2 separate regions of the Homo sapiens genome follow, and region 2 is linked to region 1. The links come from fine-mapping of genetic effects on gene expression. A gene starts in region 1. The other region holds a variant in brackets. All regions are shown on one strand. Distances are between the middles of the regions. Region 1 holds the start of SMCR8 (SMCR8-C9orf72 complex subunit). Region 2 overlaps LLGL1 (LLGL scribble cell polarity complex component 1).

Region 1 (8,424 bases):
TAGGACATAGCAATTAACAAAATATAATCACTGTCCTTTGGAGTTTAGAGTCCAAGGAGAGGCAGTGACAAAAATCAAATAAATGATCGCACATCCCATTATTTAACTGTAACTAGTAGATGCCTTTCAAGTAGAATAGAGTGCTATGACAGCATGTCAGTAAGGGTCTCTGACCTAGTGTGGGGGAACAGGTGGTGAGGGAAGGATTCCTTGAAGATGAGACATTTCAGCAGCCTCTCTCCTCTAGCCGCCCCAGATGCCAAAAGGAAAGATGGCCAAGGGGAAGAAGTGGCCCTGGCCCCTGTTGTCATGGAGCAGCAGTAGGCCAAAAAGGTGGTAAATCCCATTTGAGAAAAGCCCTAATAATTTTGGCATTGGATATCTAGCCTAAGGGCCTCACCCACTTTGTCAAATAGTCCCGCTATAAATGGCTGCTGCGGCAGAGCCGCTGTACTCTATAAGTGGCTGATGTGCCACCTGGGATTGACCAGTTCACCCAGGCCTCAGACTACCAAACTTAAGCTACTCAATTGCTTAAGCTGGCCCACAGTACAGACAAGAGACAGAGCAAGGGATGAGATCGAAACCGTTGGCCCAGGCTGAGAAGAAAGCTTCCAGCAAAGGGGATGTCGCTACTAAGAGACCACCTACACTTCGAGCAGGGGTTGACACCGTCACCAACTTGGTAGAGAGCATGAAGGGTCAGCTGGTGGTGGATCCCATTGAGCTGGTTGTCTTCCTGCCTGTGCTGTGTCCTAAGATGGGGATTCTCTACTGCACCGTCAAGACTGTGGTGTCAAATTCCACAGGAAGACCTGCACCACTGTCACCTTCACAAAGGTTAACTTTCTGGTAGACAAAGGAGCTCTGGCTAAGCTGGTGGGACAAATTACAACGACATATGAGATCTGCTGTCACTGGGGAGGCAATGCCCTGGGTCCAAAATCTGTAGCTTGCATTACCAACCTAGAAAAGGCAAAGGCTAAAGAATTTGCCACTAAACTGGGTTAAGTACACACTGTTGTGTTTTCTGTACATAAAAATAAAAATTCTCTTTCCAAGAAAAGTCTTTCCTTTTGGCTGGAACTGCCATCTTGGAGTAATTTGCCAAAATGACGAACACAAAGGAAAAGAGGACGAGGCATCTGATGTATGTTCTCCTGGCCTTATAGAAAACATGGAGTTCGAGCTGGGCACGGTGGCTCACGCCTGTAACCCTAACACTTTGGGAGGCTAAGGCGGGTGGCTCACCTGAAGTCAGGAGTTCAAGACCATCCTGGCCAACACAGTGAAACTACTAAAAATACAAAAAATTAGCTGGGCATGGTGACAGGCACCTGTAATCCCAGCTACTAGGGAGGCTGAGGCAGGAGAATCGCTTGAACCCGGGAGGCGGAGGTTGCAGTGAGCTGAGATCACACCATTGCACTCCAGGCTGGGCAACAAGAGCAAAGCTCCATCTCAAAACAAACAAACAAAACAAAACAAAAATATGGAGTTTCTCTGGCCACAGACACCAGAATCTACAATGAAGGTGATATTGAGGACTTCGTGAGAATGCATACTGTTCAAAAGGGAATGACCCACAAATGTTACATGGCAGAACTGGAAAAGTCTATGTTACCCAGCATGCTGTTGGCACTGCTGCGAACAAGGGCTAGATTCTTGCCCAAAGAATTAATGTTTCTATTGAGCATATTAAGCACTCTAAGAACCAAGATCTTTCCTGAAATGTGTGAAGGAAAATGATCAAAAAAGAAGCAAGTCAAAGAGAAAGGGTTCACCTGAAGTGCCAGCCTGTTCCATTGAGGGAAGTACACTTTGTGAGAACCAATGGAAAAGAGCCTGAGCCGCTGGAACCTATTCCCTATGGATTCATGGTATGATAGGGTAAAAATAGATAAATACAAGACCTCTGGATTGCTTAAAAAAAAAAAAAAAAAAGGGAGAGAGAGAGAATGAATTCAGCAGAGCCTTGAAGGATAAGAAGTTAGGCGTAGGAGAACCATTTTTCAATGTCTACTTCATTGTCTAGAAGTAGACAAACCTTGGGGCTGGTCACCAGGACTTCTAGCACTGGAAACAGGTAAAGCTGTCAGCCAGCATTCACACAACCCTGGCTCCACTCCCACTATCCTTGATCTGGAAACAGGTCTTAGGACCCTGGGAACTAAAGAAAAATGAGCAGGGAACTTCCACCCATGCTCTTAGAAAAGTTCTCCAGAAAACCATTTCAGGATCTACTTTTGTTATCTGAGATATTTTCCTGGACAGCTCTTTATGTCTCCCGTGGCACCTCCTTTATGAAACTTTTTCTTATCCTCCCTTGCGTTTGTGCCTCCCGTGTGTGTAGAACACATTCTTACCACTTACCTCTCTCAGAATCAGTTCATTCGGGTAGGAACAGGGCTGACTTCAAATCTAATCCCCAAACCTTACCGTGTTGCTGTAAGTGTGCACTGTGAGGCTGGAAAGTCACAAGGGCTGTAGAATGCAGTGGCTGTGGCACAGGATGGGGAGGGCTAGGTTGGCTGGGGAACGATCGGGCAGGGCTTGAATGCCAAGTTAAGGGAATCTGGTCAGTAGTTCCCAAATGAATTTCTGAATCTCTAGGGAAAAACAGTAAAATACACACTTCCCCAGCCTCACACAAGACCCGAAGGGCAGCCAGCGCCCGAGGCGATTCCGAGAATCAGACAAGTTTGGGAACCTGCTAAGCGCAAGCAAAACAAAAGGTTTCCACGCAAATGAGTGAGATGTATCAACTACGTTTTAAAATGCACTCCAGTCCGAGAGCAGACAGGAGGCCACTGCAATAATCCAGACGAGGGGCAGTGAGGCCTGAGAAATGGGAGATAATCGCCTTCATCTCGATTCTTGGCGCCCACCACGCTGTCCCGCTCGGTGGGCCTCCCTTAAGGCACGCAGCTGATCGGAACGCGCTTTCTTACCCGCCTCATGCGACCGTTTGACAGCAGGTCGGCGATCCCCTTGGCCGCGTCGTTTTTTTCGGCCACACAGAGGACTTTCCGCACGCCTCGGAGGGCCATCTCCATGGCGGCGCGGGAAAAGGCACGGTCTTCGGGCCGTCGCAGCCACCGGAGCGCGTAGCGGGCGACAGGAAAGATCATCCTCAGACCTCGCGCCCGGAGCCGCTCCCCGGCTGCCGGCGCATCCTGGGGAAGCCAGAGATGAGGCTCAAATGGCGCCCACCGAAAGGGAACCAGAGCCTCGCTTCGGTCACGTCCCCACCAGCCTGCTGGCCTTTGGAGCTTCAGTCACTGAGCCTTTCCCGTGCCGCAGCCGCCGCCTCAGCACCGAATCCAGTATCTTGGCGTGGAACTTCCGCCCGCCTTCTCCAGCTACTTCCGCCAGGCGCGCGCCCCACAGCGACCTGGAACTACAACTCCCAGACTGTCCCGCGCCCCTCGTCCAAGCACGTTCCCCTCTGCCACCTTCCCGCCGCCCCCGTCTCACTCCGCCCCTCTTTCCCCTCCTTCCCGGCAGTGGTTGGTTAATCGGACTCCTTCTTGCGGGGAGCCGCCAGACACTCCCATCCAAGGCCTCTTTCTCATGACTTTTTAATCTCCTGCTCGGAAGTCTACGAGGACGCTTCCGGGTCACGCGGCGCGGACACCAGGAGTCATGTGATGTCAAGATGGCGGCGCCGCGGTAGCAGGATCCGGGTTGTGGCGTCCTAGGAGCCGCGACGGTTTCTGCCCTCGGGCAGTGAGGGGCAGCAGCGCTTGGCTGACCCCTGCGGCGTCCCGTAGCCTCGCGTTAAGCCTTGTTCAGAGCGGGGGCTTTTGCTGTCGCAGTGGGTTCCGGAGAGTGCAGGTGATTTCGCAGCAGGTTTCTTGTGCTGGCCGCGCTCGCCGGACGAAGAAGAGAAGGGCAGTTGGGCCTGCGGCCTTGGCGTTCATGAGGCCTCAGAGAGCTCCGGAGGAGCTACAACTGTGAGGGGGCTGCTAGAGTTCTTCTCCTCGGGTGTGTGAGAAGCAGCCTAGGACCCCGGGTTCGGGGAGTCGCAAAGAAGGCCGTAAGGGCTTCACTTCCTTCTCCGGAGGCCTGCCTTCTGCGCGTCGATTAACACCGCATTCTTTCCCACTTCCTCTCAATGTTTTCTTCATATATCTGGAAATATGATCAGCGCCCCTGACGTAGTGGCCTTCACCAAAGAGGAAGAGTATGAAGAAGAGCCTTACAATGAGCCGGCCCTGCCTGAGGAGTACTCGGTGCCGCTCTTCCCCTTCGCCAGTCAGGGTGCTAACCCCTGGTCAAAACTGTCCGGGGCCAAGTTTTCGAGGGACTTCATTCTTATTTCCGAGTTCTCTGAGCAGGTGGGACCCCAACCCTTACTGACCATCCCCAATGACACCAAAGTTTTTGGCACTTTTGATCTCAATTACTTCTCCCTGCGTATCATGTCTGTGGATTACCAGGCTTCCTTCGTGGGCCATCCTCCTGGATCTGCCTACCCCAAGCTGAACTTCGTGGAGGACTCCAAGGTGGTGCTGGGAGATTCTAAGGAGGGCGCCTTTGCATACGTGCACCACCTTACCCTATACGACCTGGAGGCCCGTGGCTTCGTGAGGCCGTTTTGCATGGCTTATATCTCTGCAGACCAGCATAAAATCATGCAGCAGTTCCAGGAGCTTTCAGCCGAATTTTCCAGAGCTTCTGAGTGCTTGAAGACTGGCAACAGGAAGGCATTTGCTGGGGAACTTGAAAAAAAGCTGAAAGACTTGGATTACACCAGGACAGTGCTACACACAGAAACGGAGATCCAGAAGAAAGCCAACGACAAAGGCTTTTACTCATCTCAGGCAATTGAGAAAGCCAATGAACTGGCCAGTGTGGAGAAGTCCATCATTGAACATCAAGACCTGCTGAAGCAGATCCGCTCATACCCTCATCGGAAGTTGAAGGGGCATGATTTGTGTCCTGGTGAGATGGAGCACATCCAGGATCAGGCCAGCCAGGCATCCACTACCTCTAACCCTGATGAGTCTGCCGACACAGACCTTTACACCTGCAGACCAGCCTACACCCCAAAACTTATCAAAGCAAAGTCCACCAAGTGTTTTGACAAGAAGTTGAAGACCTTGGAGGAGCTCTGTGACACTGAATATTTCACCCAGACCCTGGCTCAGCTCAGCCACATTGAACACATGTTCAGAGGAGACCTGTGTTACCTCCTGACCAGTCAGATTGATAGAGCACTTCTAAAACAACAGCATATAACAAACTTTCTCTTTGAAGACTTTGTGGAGGTCGATGACAGGATGGTGGAGAAACAAGAAAGCATACCCTCTAAGCCCAGTCAAGACAGGCCGCCTTCCAGTTCTCTAGAAGAATGCCCAATTCCTAAAGTGTTAATTAGTGTTGGTTCTTACAAGTCCAGTGTGGAGTCTGTGTTGATCAAGATGGAGCAGGAACTGGGAGATGAGGAGTACAAGGAAGTGGAAGTGACTGAGTTGAGCAGTTTCGACCCCCAGGAAAACTTGGACTACCTGGATATGGATATGAAAGGGAGTATCAGCAGTGGTGAAAGTATTGAAGTTTTGGGCACGGAGAAATCCACCTCCGTGCTTTCTAAATCTGACAGCCAGGCAAGCCTCACAGTACCATTGAGCCCCCAGGTGGTCCGGAGCAAAGCAGTCAGCCACAGGACCATCAGCGAGGACAGTATTGAAGTCCTCAGTACCTGCCCCTCTGAGGCCCTCATCCCTGATGACTTTAAGGCCAGCTACCCAAGTGCCATTAATGAAGAAGAATCATATCCAGATGGCAATGAAGGAGCCATCCGCTTCCAGGCAAGCATCAGTCCTCCAGAACTGGGTGAGACAGAGGAAGGCAGCATAGAAAACACCCCATCACAAATAGACTCCTCCTGCTGTATTGGGAAGGAGAGCGATGGTCAGTTGGTGCTGCCCTCCACTCCAGCCCACACACACTCTGACGAGGATGGGGTGGTGAGCAGCCCCCCACAGCGCCACAGGCAGAAGGACCAGGGGTTCCGTGTAGACTTTTCAGTGGAAAATGCCAACCCTTCTTCCCGAGACAACAGTTGTGAAGGGTTTCCCGCTTATGAGCTGGACCCGAGCCACCTGCTGGCTAGCCGGGACATCAGTAAGACCAGCCTGGACAACTACTCAGACACCACCAGCTACGTGAGCAGTGTAGCGTCCACCAGCTCAGACAGGATCCCCTCTGCTTATCCTGCTGGCCTGTCTTCCGATAGGCATAAAAAGAGGGCTGGCCAGAACGCCTTAAAATTCATCCGCCAGTACCCCTTTGCCCACCCAGCCATCTACTCCCTGCTCAGTGGGAGGACACTTGTGGTCCTGGGGGAAGATGAGGCCATAGTCAGGAAACTCGTGACTGCACTGGCTATCTTTGTCCCCAGCTATGGCTGCTACGCTAAGCCCGTGAAACATTGGGCCTCCTCCCCTTTGCACATTATGGATTTTCAGAAGTGGAAGCTTATTGGCTTGCAGAGGTAACTGGTTCCAGGTGGTGGGGAAGGGCCTTGGCCAGATAGGGATGAGGTATATTGGTGTGGTGGAGCCAGAATCAGGAAGCCTGGCTTCTAGACAGGGCCCAGTTCCTACCACTGTGTTACTTTTGGCAAGTCATCCCCCTCTCTGGTTTCTATTTCCTTGTCTGTCATGTGAGGGGGTTGCAGTTCCTAGGTGGTTGCCAATCCCCATCTGTCCCCGAGCTGTGTCAGCATTATTAGGGAAAGTTTTTATTTTTATTTTTATTTTTTTGCAACGAAGTCTCGCTCTTGTACCCCAGGCTGGAGTGCAATGGCGCGATCTTGGCTCACTGCAATCTCCGCCTCCCGGGTTCAAGCAATTCTCTTGCCTCACTGTCCTGAGTAGCTGGGATTACAGGCGCCTGCCACCACACCCGGCTAACTTTTCTATTTTTAGTAGAGACAGGGTTTCACCATGTTGGCCAGGCTGGTCTGGAACTCCTGACCTTAGGTGGTCTGCCCACCTCAGCCTCCCAAAGTGCTGGGATTACAGGTGTGAGCCACCGTGCCTGGCCGGAAAGTTTTTAAAATCATGGATTCCTGAGTCACAAGCCCTCGAGGTTCTGATTCGGTTGGTGTGAGGTAAGACATGGAATTTATCTGTCGCCATTGCCAGCCCGACTGCAGGGAGCATCTCTCTATAAAAGCAAAAGGCCCATCAGAAGGGACAGATGACTCCGGGGGAAAGGGTTAGGCTGCTGTCCCTGTAAGTGCTCTTTCAACCTTCAGAGCACGTGCAGATGTTGGGTGCTGGGAGCATCTGCCTCCAGCATCCTACACAGGCATGAGGTGCAGCGGGCAGGTGTGGGGAGCCCTGCACCCTGGAGGGTCCCCTGCGGGGCCAAACGGGAATGGGATGGGCTACAGCTCACCCAAAGAATTCCTGGGGGAGGTGAGCAGTAGACGCCACCTGAGGGTATGATAAGATGAAACTGTTGTGGGCTGTGGCAGTTAGCGGGAGCAGTGGGTGGTCTGGGTCAAGTCCTGGTGTGCCACCACTCGCTGTCTGGATTCGGACCAACCATCTCATTCAGTCACCCAATCATGTTGAACACCTCTGAAGGGCTCCCGGGGCCCACCTGAGAGCCATCGGAAGGGTCCACGTTTAGTGCATGTCCAAAAAAACACAGCACAGTGCAGTGCTTGGCCCTGAGAAGCACTCAGAGGGTGGAACCGGCACCGACACAGGCAGGCAGACTGGGGCCTACCTGAGGCCCAGCTTTAAAAATCACGAGCAGGAGAGATGTCTTCGGTGGTTGTGACCTTCCTATCCTCGGAGGTGTTGCGCTGCAGAGGCTCTGCACTCTGAGCACCACGGCCCAGAAGTGTGCCTCCTCACTCAGGCCCACTGCTCACATGATGGACTCTCTTTCAGGACTCTCACCTCCGAACACCAGTCTTGCTGGCCCTTGATTTTTTTCACTCTGCCTGGAAATGCTTGTAGTTGGGTCAGCCATCTGTGGGGATAAGAGATGGCTAAACAACCAAGCTGGTATCCTGTCATTTGCGGGTTTTTTTGTTTTGTGTGTTTTTTGTTGTTGTTGTTGTTGGAGACAGAGTCTTGCTCTGTTGCCCAGGCTGGAGTGCAGTGATGTGATCTCAGCCCACTGCAGCCTCTGCTTCCTAGGCTCAGGTTATTCTCGTGCCTCAGCCTCTCCAGTAGCTGGGATTATAGGCGTGCGCCATCATGCCAGGCTAATTTTTGTATCTTTAGTAGAGACAGGGTTTCACCATGTTGGCCAGGCTGGTCTCAAATGATCGGCCCACCTCAGCCTTCCGAAGTACTGGGATTATAGGCGTGAGCCCGGCCCTGCTGTCATTTTAAGTGAACACCAGGGGTCATCCTATTGCTTACTAAGCAGCAGTCACAAGCCCAGACCGAA
Region 2 (9,033 bases), 74 kb before region 1:
ACAGCCCAGATGGTGGTGGCTGGCACTGCAGGCCAGGTAGGGCTGGGTGTCCCCTGGGTTGGAGATGTCAGGGAGGGCTTTCTGGAAGAGATGAGCTGGAGGGTCTGGTGGAAAGGGAGATGGACTGGCACAGGCAAAAGCCAAGGTGGGAATAGGGCTCTGGGTGGGGCTGGCTGGGGTGAGGACAGATGGGAAGTGGGCCTGTCGCTGGGGGAACCACAGTGTTGAGAGGAGGGAACTCATGTCAGTGCTGTGCTCCGGCACTCACATGACATACAGGAGGTGCTCAATGTGTCCTTATTGCTAAATGGGAGATAGAGGCTCAGGGTAAGGGTGGACACTTTGCCCTCAGAGGGCAGGGACTAGTGTGTCTTGGTCACCACTGTGTTCCTTGTGCTCAGCCAGGGCCTTGGTATACAGTAGGCATTCAGTGAGTGCTTGTTTAGCTGATGAACTGAAGACAGTCCTAGAACCACCTTGGTGGTGGCTGGGGCTGCTTCAGAGGCTCCAGGCTGAGTGGGGCCCAGGGCGGCCCCTCCCCTGCGCTGATGCTCCCCCTGCCTGGCTGTGGGCTCAGGTGCTGGTACTGGAGCTTAGTGATGTGCCGGTGGAGCAGGCGGTCAGCGTGGCCATCATAGACCTCCTCCAGGACCGCGAGGGCTTCACATGGAAGGGCCACGAGCGGCTGAGCCCACGCACGGGGCCGCTGCCCTGGCCTGCTGGCTTCCAGCCCCGTGTCCTGGTGCAGTGCCTGCCGCCAGCTGCTGTAACCGCTGTCACACTCCACACCGAGTGGAGCCTCGTGGCTTTTGGCACCAGTCATGGCTTTGGCCTCTTCGACTACCAGCGCAAGAGCCCTGTGCTGGCCAGGTGTGTGGGGTGGGGCCGGCTGGGCAGTTGGAGCCCCCAGCGAGATGGGGTCTGGGCTTCCGTTTCCACCTCTAGTGTTTGGTGTGGCAAAGGCCACTAACCTCCATTGCCCTATAAGAAATAACCTGGCAGCTCCAAGAAGGACATTCTCAGTACCACCTGCAGCTGGGTCCATAGGACTGCGCCAGAGGGGCTGTGACTCCCTGACCTGGGTGCCTCCACAGGCCAGCAGGAGTGTGGTGGCTGCCCCAGGAGGCTGCTCTATAGCACGACTGGACCCTGTCTTCCCCCAGGTGCACTCTTCACCCCAATGACTCCCTGGCCATGGAGGGTCCGCTCTCCCGGGTGAAGTCTCTCAAGAAGTCACTGCGCCAGTCTTTCCGGCGCATTCGCAAGAGTCGTGTCTCTGGCAAGAAGCGGGCTGCTAATGCCAGCAGCAAGGTGAGCTGGGGTGGGCTGCACAGGAGCTGTGCCTGTGTCCTGTGCCTTGGCCTGGCTCTGGCCTGGGACCCCTGGGGCCTGCTTAGCTCAGTGCTCCTCCCTCGGCAGCCCCTGGGCCCTCCAGAGGGATGGGTGAACTAAGCTGGGTGGTAGAGGAATGGTAACAGAACGTAGGGCGCAAAGCAGGATGCAAGCCACTGGGGTGCTAGGGAGACAGTGTTCAGGAGCCCCCGCCCGGCAGTTGCAGGAAGCCAATGCACAGCTGGCTGAGCAGGCCTGCCCCCACGACGTGGAGATGACGCCCGTGCAGCGCCGCATTGAGCCCCGCTCTGCCGATGACTCCTTGTCGGGTGTCGTGCGTTGCCTATACTTTGCCGACACATTCCTTCGAGATGGTAAGGCAGGGGCAGGGGCAGGGACAGGGCAAGGGTTGGGGGGGCTGGCCTCAATTGGCCACCTGGGAGATGGGTGGTGGCAAGGGAGGTGGTGGGACTGCACCTTCCAGGAGGTGGCTGGGCACGGTGGCTCAAGCCTGTGAGTGATCCCAGCACTTTGGGAGGCCGAGGTGGGCGGATCACCTGAGGTCAGGAGTTTGAGACCCGCCAGGCCAACATGGTGAAACCTCGTCTCTACTAAAAATACAAAAATTAGCCAGGTGTGGTGGCGGGCGCCTGTAATCCCAGCTACTTGGGAGGCTGAGGCAGGAGAATTGCTTGAACGTGGGAGGCGGAGGTTGCAGTGAGCCGAGATCGTACCACTGCACTCCAGCCTGTGCAACAGAGTGAGACCTTCTCAGAAAAAAAGCTTACCATCCAGCTCTCCCAGGGGGACTGCTGGGTCACCCCCAGTCTCTCTGGGGGAGCTGGATGGTAAAGGATTTTTGAGTGAGCTGGGTGGGCCTCTCAGATCTGAGCCAGGAGAAGGGAGGTTGAGGCCTGGTGGATGACGGTGAGGGGCACCAGCCAGTGCCCAGGCCCCGAGCCGGGCATGTGTGTGGGCAGCTGCCCAGCCACTTGGCTGGAGTGGAGCAGGTGAGGGTCGAGGTGTGTGGTTCAGGGAGATACTGCTGCTGGCCAGAGGCTGAGGACCTGGCTTTGATTCTCAGTGGCCTGGGAGCCCTGGGAAGGTCCTGGATTTGTTGATTGAGTCACTGATTGATTTTGAACTTGTACAATGGGAGAGTTTCAAACATACACAAAAATAGAGAGGTGCAAAGTTGTCCCACATACCTCACATGCCTGCCACCAGCCATGTGCCCCTGCGGATTCTGCCCCCCTCCTCCACATTCTTTGCTGTTTTTTTTGCCGGGGTATTTTAAATGAAAACCCAGATACAAGTACTTCAGCATGTTCCTGACAGATGTCACTGACAGCCACTGCTCACATCATGCCCTGTAGAACCAATGTGAATTCCTGAGTGTCATCTGCTTGGTCTACGAGCTCAGCTTTCTGATGCCATTTATTTGTCGAGGGTCTTTGTGCAGTGGATTTTCTCACTGTCTGGATGTGGCGGGTGCAGCTGGGGGTGGGGGGTTCTTTGACTTTTTGTTTTTTTTGACTACAAAGACCTAGAAGAGGAGAGCCTGGGGTTTTTAACTTGTTCCACTGGCCCGAGAAGGCCGATGGGTTCATGTTCATGGCCGGCTGGGGTTCCTGTTGGGCATGTTTTGAGTTGTGCAGACACTTAATGCCTCAGGATCCATCGGGTCATCAGGGAGCAGGTGCCGAGTCTGCTCTTGCTTCTGCTGGGCTGGGCTCTGATTCTCCACTAAAGCTTGTCACCCAGAGGTTCAGTTCACACAGGCAGAGCAGGGTCGATGGATGGTCGTCCTAGGTGTCCCCAGGCTTGGCGGCTTCCTCTGGCTGCCACGTAGGGAGCACACTGAAGACAGTGGGGGTGAAGCAGGGCTAAGACAAGGCACACCTGTCGACAGGACTAGCAAGGGGACGCAGGGGTGGAGAGAGGAGTCGGGGTCTTGTGGGGCTTGGGGCCTGAGTGATGCTAGGATGGAGCTGCGTTTACTGAGATGGGGGCTGAGGGTGCAGTGGGATGGGGCTGGAGGTCTGGTTTGGGTGCCCATCAGCATTCTGTGCAGATGCGCTACAGCTGTTCGGGCCTCTGCAGGAGGGCTGCATCCTGGGCTCCGACTGCAGTCAGCAGCATAGAGCTGGGGTCTCAGGCCTCGAGGCTGGAGGTCACCAGGGAGGCATGGGGCAGGAGGGAATCAGCCCTGAGTCCCAGGGTGTCATAGTTAGGAAGCAGGGCTACAAGAGAGGCAGGGAGGGACCTGCAGTCTGTGGGAAGACCCCAGGGGAGATGCCTGGCCCACAGGGAGCACCCTCCTACGCGCTTGTTTTCTGCAGGGGCCCACCACGGGCCCACCATGTGGGCTGGCACCAACTCAGGCTCTGTGTTCGCCTATGCACTGGAGGTGCCGGCAGCAGCAGTGGGTGGTGAGAAGCGGCCTGAGCAAGCGGTGGAGGCCGTGCTGGGCAAGGAGGTGCAGCTGATGCACCGGGCGCCTGTGGTGGCCATTGCCGTGTTGGACGGGCGTGGCCGCCCACTGCCCGAGCCCTACGAGGCCTCACGGGACCTGGCGCAGGCACCTGACATGCAGGGTGGTCACGCTGTGCTCATCGCATCTGAGGAGCAGTTCAAGGTGAGCCACTGTGGGCTGTGGGGGACTCTGGGGGACTCCCCTCCAGGCCCCAACCTCATGGACACCATTGGACCCTCAAGAAACCCTTCCTGCCTGTATCCCCCACTGTTGGGACCCTAATTCCCTTGCACCCCAGAAAACACTCCCAGCCAGCAGAGAACTCCTACCCAAGAACCCTGATGCCCCCTCAGCCTGCTGAGTTCCCCTGGGAGGGCAGGAATCTAGTCCTATCTCACTGTGCCACACAAGGCTCCTGTACTGGGCCCAGACCCCTGAGCCCAGTCCCCAGGGGCTCTGCCTCGAAAGAACTCGAGGTTTGATGGGGATACCAGCTGCATAACCTTGGCATAACTCTGTGATTGATTTTGTCACAGATCGAGAGAGGGCCTGGGAGGTTTCTGGAGTACAGTGTGAAGTCTGGAGTTTAGTGGGGCAGCCAGGTGTACAGGCACGGGAGGCCACGTAGCATGCAGCTGGGCTTTGTGGTGGGGGCTGTTGGGTCAGCA[G/A]CCACGAGGGTGAGGGGCCCTGGGGACGAGGACAGGGCCAGGCTTTGTGCTCACCAGCCACCTGCTGTCAGGTGTTCACACTGCCCAAGGTGAGCGCGAAGACCAAGTTCAAGCTGACGGCCCATGAGGGCTGTCGTGTGCGCAAGGTGGCACTGGCCACGTTTGCCAGTGTGGCCTGCGAGGACTATGCTGAGACCTGCCTGGCCTGCCTCACCAACCTGGGTGACGTCCACGTCTTCTCGGTGCCTGGCCTGCGGCCCCAGGTGCACTATTCCTGCATCCGGAAGGAGGACATCAGCGGCATCGCTTCGTGCGTCTTTACGCGCCATGGCCAGGGTGAGGCGGGGCAGAGGCCGAGGAGGCCTTCCTCAGGCGAGCGAACTGAGTGGGACCAGTACTGCTTGGGAGCAGGAAGGGCACTCCAGGTGGGCACAGGCCCAGGCCACGGAGGAGCTGTGGTTGGTGGTATCTTCTAACTGCACTCCTCATTCTTCTGCCCACCCAGGCTTTTACCTGATATCCCCATCAGAATTTGAACGCTTCTCCCTAAGTGCCCGGAACATCACAGAGCCGCTCTGCTCTCTGGACATTAACTGGCCCCGCGATGCCACCCAGGCCAGGTGTGTGGAGGGGCAGCTCCTAGCCTGGGGGACCTGTGCCCAGGGCCAGGTCTCATCCCACCCCCGAGATCTGCCTTCCCTGGGCTCAGGAGTGGGAGGGCAAGGATCTAGCGTGCCAGCCTCAAGTCATCCACCTATGGTCCCCATCATGGCCCCATCTCTGCAGTTACAGGATCCGAGAGTCACCCAAGCTGAGCCAGGCTAACGGGACCCCAAGCATCCTGCTGGCCCCACAGAGCCTTGATGGAAGCCCTGATCCAGCCCACAGCATGGGACCTGGTGAGGGGGGCATGAAAGGGGTCCAGACCCTGGCCCCACGGTGCCCTGGGGGAGGGAGTCGGGACTCACATAGCTCAGGGATCGGGCAGGCTTCTGTAGGAGATGGGTGGTTGTGTGCTCACTGGTGCCACCCCTCACCATGGGCTGCCTTATGGGTCTGTGTCCCTAGGCCCCCAGGTGCAGAGGGTGCTAAGGGTCCTGGTAGGGGCTGATGACTTGCTCCCTGTAGACACCCCGGAGCCACCCGAGGCTGCACTCTCACCCATGTCCATCGACTCAGCCACCAGTGCTGACACCACGCTGGACACGACAGGGGACGTCACAGTGGAAGATGTGAAGGATTTCCTGGGGTGAGGCTGGTGGGCAGGTCCACAGGGGGGGCTGCCCTGTCCCCTAGGCCTCCGTCCCCAGGGCTGCCAGGGGCTCCCCCGCCCCCACCCCTGAGCACCATCCCCATCTCGCAGCTCCTCTGAGGAGTCAGAGAAGAACCTGAGGAACCTGGCAGAAGACGAGGCCCACGCCTGTGCCATCCTGATCAAATGAGGTGCTGCAGGGGTGGGGCCCTGGTCCTCACCACTGGTGACGTCCACCCCCTTCAGCCCGTCTGGGTACCATTTGGCCCTGGTCTTCTACCTGAGACCCTGGCAGGCCCATGTGATGGCACTCTCTGAAACCTGGCTGCCTTCCATGGAGTGCCTCAATTGGGGACTTCTGGTGCTCACACAGACACCAGTGTCATGGTTGGGTATTAGAAAAGCAGGGCCAGCCCCTCAGCCCTTGCATGTGACAGGTGGTGGTTAGGACAAGACCAGATTTGTTTTGTTTTGTTTTGTTTTGTTTTGTTTTTGAGACGGAGTCTTGCTCTGTCGCCCAGGCTGGAGTGCAGTGGCGTGATCTTGGCTCACTGCAACCTCTGCCTCCTGGGTTCATGCCATTCTCCTGCCTCAGCCTCCTGAGCAGCTGGGACTACAGGCGCCCGCCACCACACCCAGCTAATTTTTTGTGTTTTTAGTAGAGACGGGGTTTCACTGTGTTAGCCAGGATGGTCTCGATCTCCTGACCTCATGATCCACCCGCCTCGGCCTCCCTAAGTCCTGGGATTACAGGCGTGAGCCACCGCACCCGGCCAACAAGACCAGATTAAACCACTTAGAGGTGGCAGTAGTTTGGGGCTTGGGAGCTGGTTTGGCCAGCCTGTTTCATAGATGAGATCACTGAGGTGCACGAGGTCAGGTCTCATCGGTTGGGCCCAGCAAGTGGCTGACTTACCCCTGCCTGAGTCTGTGGATCCTCACCTAGATGTGGGGCCCATAGATCTGCCCAGCGCATTTGCTGCCTCATGTTCCCAGGCACCTGACTGTAGGCCATAGCCTCACCCTGCACAGGACATGGACACCTCCCAGCTCTTTGTCTGGTGCCTCTCCCTGGCCTCAGTGGGGCATATGTGGCCTGGCGCTTGGATACCCATCTGGAGACTCAGCAAGCCCATCTCAGGTGGTCACTGAAGGGCCATGCCTGCCCTGCAGAGGAGACAGTGGCAGCACCTGTGTGGTCTGGCCGCTGTGGCAATCCATCTGCCCTTTTGCCCTCCCTCACCTTCTGCTGATACCTCTTCTCTCCCTCTTCCAGGAAGGCCAGAACTATCCCGACCTCCACCTGCCCTGCTCGGAGCTGGAGTGCTGGATCCCTGGCACCTGCCTGGCCCCTTAACATAGAACCACGCCTGCTAACCTGTAGGCTCCACTGGGACCTGCTGTCCTGTCCCGCCTGACCCTGGGCCCTGGAGCAGCACCAGCCCCAGGGTGTGGGCCTGGGACCTGGGCCAGAACTGAGCCCTCCTGCAGGCATTTGGCTGCCCTGGGGGCCCACTGCCTAGGGAAGAGGACAGGTGGGGCCCAGCACCTGTGCCACCTCCCCCCCTCCACACACCATCCTTCCCCCTCACTTTGCAGAGTATTTTTCCTTTTTTTTTTTTTTCTTAAAGACGGAGTCTTGCTCTGTCGCCCAGGCTGGAGTGCAGTGGCCCCATCTCTGCTCACTGCAAGCCCCGCCTTCTGGGTTCCCGCCATTCTTCTGCCTCAGCCTCCCAAGTAGCTGGGACTACAGGCGCCCACCACCACGCCCAGCTAATTTTTTCTGTATTTTTAGTAGAGATGGGGTTTCACCATGTTAGCCAGGATGGTCTCGATCTCCTGACCTCGTGATCCACCCACCTCAGCCTCCCAAAGTGCTGGGATTACAGGCGTGAGCCACCATGCCCAGCCCTGCAAAGAGTATTTTTCTAGCGCCTGGGCTGGACAGTTGTTTCTAAAACTAAACTATTTTGGTACCTGCTTCTGGGCCAGTCCCCAGCCTGTCATGAGTGTGTGTGTGCGGGCATGGATGTGACTGGGAGCTCTGCTGGGCACCCACATCTGGGGCCTAGTCAGGTGTGTGTGTCCGGCGGGGGGGGGGGGCAGGGGGGGGGGTCAAGATGAGTTTCCCTGTAGATTGTACCTTGGGGTTTTTTTCTGTCGTTTTGTTAAAATTAGCGCCATTTTAATATTAAAAATACTGATTTTTAATATTGAAAATAAAAGCATTTAATATCTCTTAAAGGGCATCCACATCTGCTTTATCCCTAGCGGAAGAGTGAGGGGGCTTCACACGTGCACTCACACTGTGGAGAGAGTTGGATTTCCCAGACCCCTGAGGGCACCTGTCAGGGTCATCCCCATTGGTGCTGCTTGAGGCTACTGGGGACTGTGGCACTGGACGTGGCTGGAGCAGGTGGTGTCACCTGAGTACATTCTTTGCTAGCAGACAGTGGATGAGGCCCCTTCCTCTTCCTCACCAAGCCTGGGGCTGTGCCAGCCTGTCTTAGGCCAGGGCCTTGCAGAAGGCGCTCCAGGCGTGGAAGCAGCGGGTAAAGGCGTGCTGCTCATTGCCCTTGCGGACCAGGCGCAGCCGGCGCGGCCGCTCATGTTCCTTGGACCGCATGTGCTGGATATATACCTGGCAAGGGGACAGCGAGCCTTGGGTGATGACCCTGCCCTGCCCACAGGCCCACCTCGGCCCTCCCTCCACCCAGATTACCTGGCAGGCCTTCAGGCTCAGCTTGATCTCCACCTGGCTAGTCTGGGTCCCCACCCACATGTAGACCTGTGGGGGCAGCAGGGGAGATACGGTTGCATGGGTGCCTGGGAACAGCCCCTTGCTCCTGGCCCGAGAATTCCCATTTGTAAGTAAGTCTATGGGCGCCTCCTTGGATGGGCAGGGCTAGTGGCAACATCACACCTCTTGGCCATTGTCTAGCAACATGATGTCATCATCTGCCAGGTCATCTTGGCAAAAGTCGGAGCATTTCTCAGTCACTGCAAAGTAGCCCTTCTCGTTGGAGCACCTGGGAATCAAGGGTCAAGGTGAGGCCAGAGGTCATAAGCAGCAGTGCCAGGACTGAGGGGAGGGTCAGGGCCCTGGCCTCACCGGAAGAGACGTGTGTGTTTCATGTACTCGGCATCGTCATCATAGGGCTTCTGTGCCCCAATGCCCACCCAGAAGAAGTTCTCAGGCTCCTCACCTTCGTTGATAACCTGCGGGAAAGGCCAGTCCAGCCCAGGGCCCCTGCCTGCCCTGGCTCCTCTGTGTGTGCCCGCCTGCCCGCCCGCCTCCTGACCTG

Evidence for each region. PIP is the estimated chance that this variant, and not a neighbour inherited with it, causes the effect.
Region 2: its variant is fine-mapped to the expression of SMCR8 in whole blood (INTERVAL, PIP above 0.99).

The regions. Positions count from the first base shown.
Region 1 is chr17:18,311,648-18,320,071 of GRCh38, forward strand. It overlaps SMCR8 (SMCR8-C9orf72 complex subunit), which reads left to right and starts at 3,646. Exons shown (of 2, transcript NM_144775.3): 1 at 3,646-6,502. The coding sequence starts at 4,143. TOP3A (DNA topoisomerase III alpha) reads right to left here and starts at 3,347. Exons shown (of 19, transcript NM_004618.5): 1 at 2,952-3,347. The coding sequence starts at 3,131. It also overlaps the pseudogene RPL7AP65 and the pseudogene RPL21P121. RefSeq lists enhancers at 2,396-2,919, 2,867-2,956, 2,967-3,316, 3,444-3,967, 3,657-3,706 and a silencer at 3,467-3,516.
Region 2 is chr17:18,236,904-18,245,936 of GRCh38, forward strand. LLGL1 (LLGL scribble cell polarity complex component 1) reads left to right here. Exons shown (of 23, transcript NM_004140.4): 13 at 1-36; 14 at 578-870; 15 at 1,164-1,311; 16 at 1,553-1,706; 17 at 3,675-3,970; 18 at 4,548-4,812; 19 at 4,982-5,096; 20 at 5,263-5,375; 21 at 5,605-5,725; 22 at 5,840-5,919; 23 at 7,005-7,972. The coding sequence ends at 5,918. It overlaps FLII (FLII actin remodeling protein), which reads right to left. Exons shown (of 30, transcript NM_002018.4): 26 at 9,031-9,033; 27 at 8,841-8,947; 28 at 8,652-8,757; 29 at 8,451-8,516; 30 at 7,912-8,369. The coding sequence ends at 8,235. Among named protein-coding and RNA genes, the nearest start is that of LLGL1, 16 kb to the left of the region's middle. The variant G/A (reference allele first, on the strand shown) is at 4,477.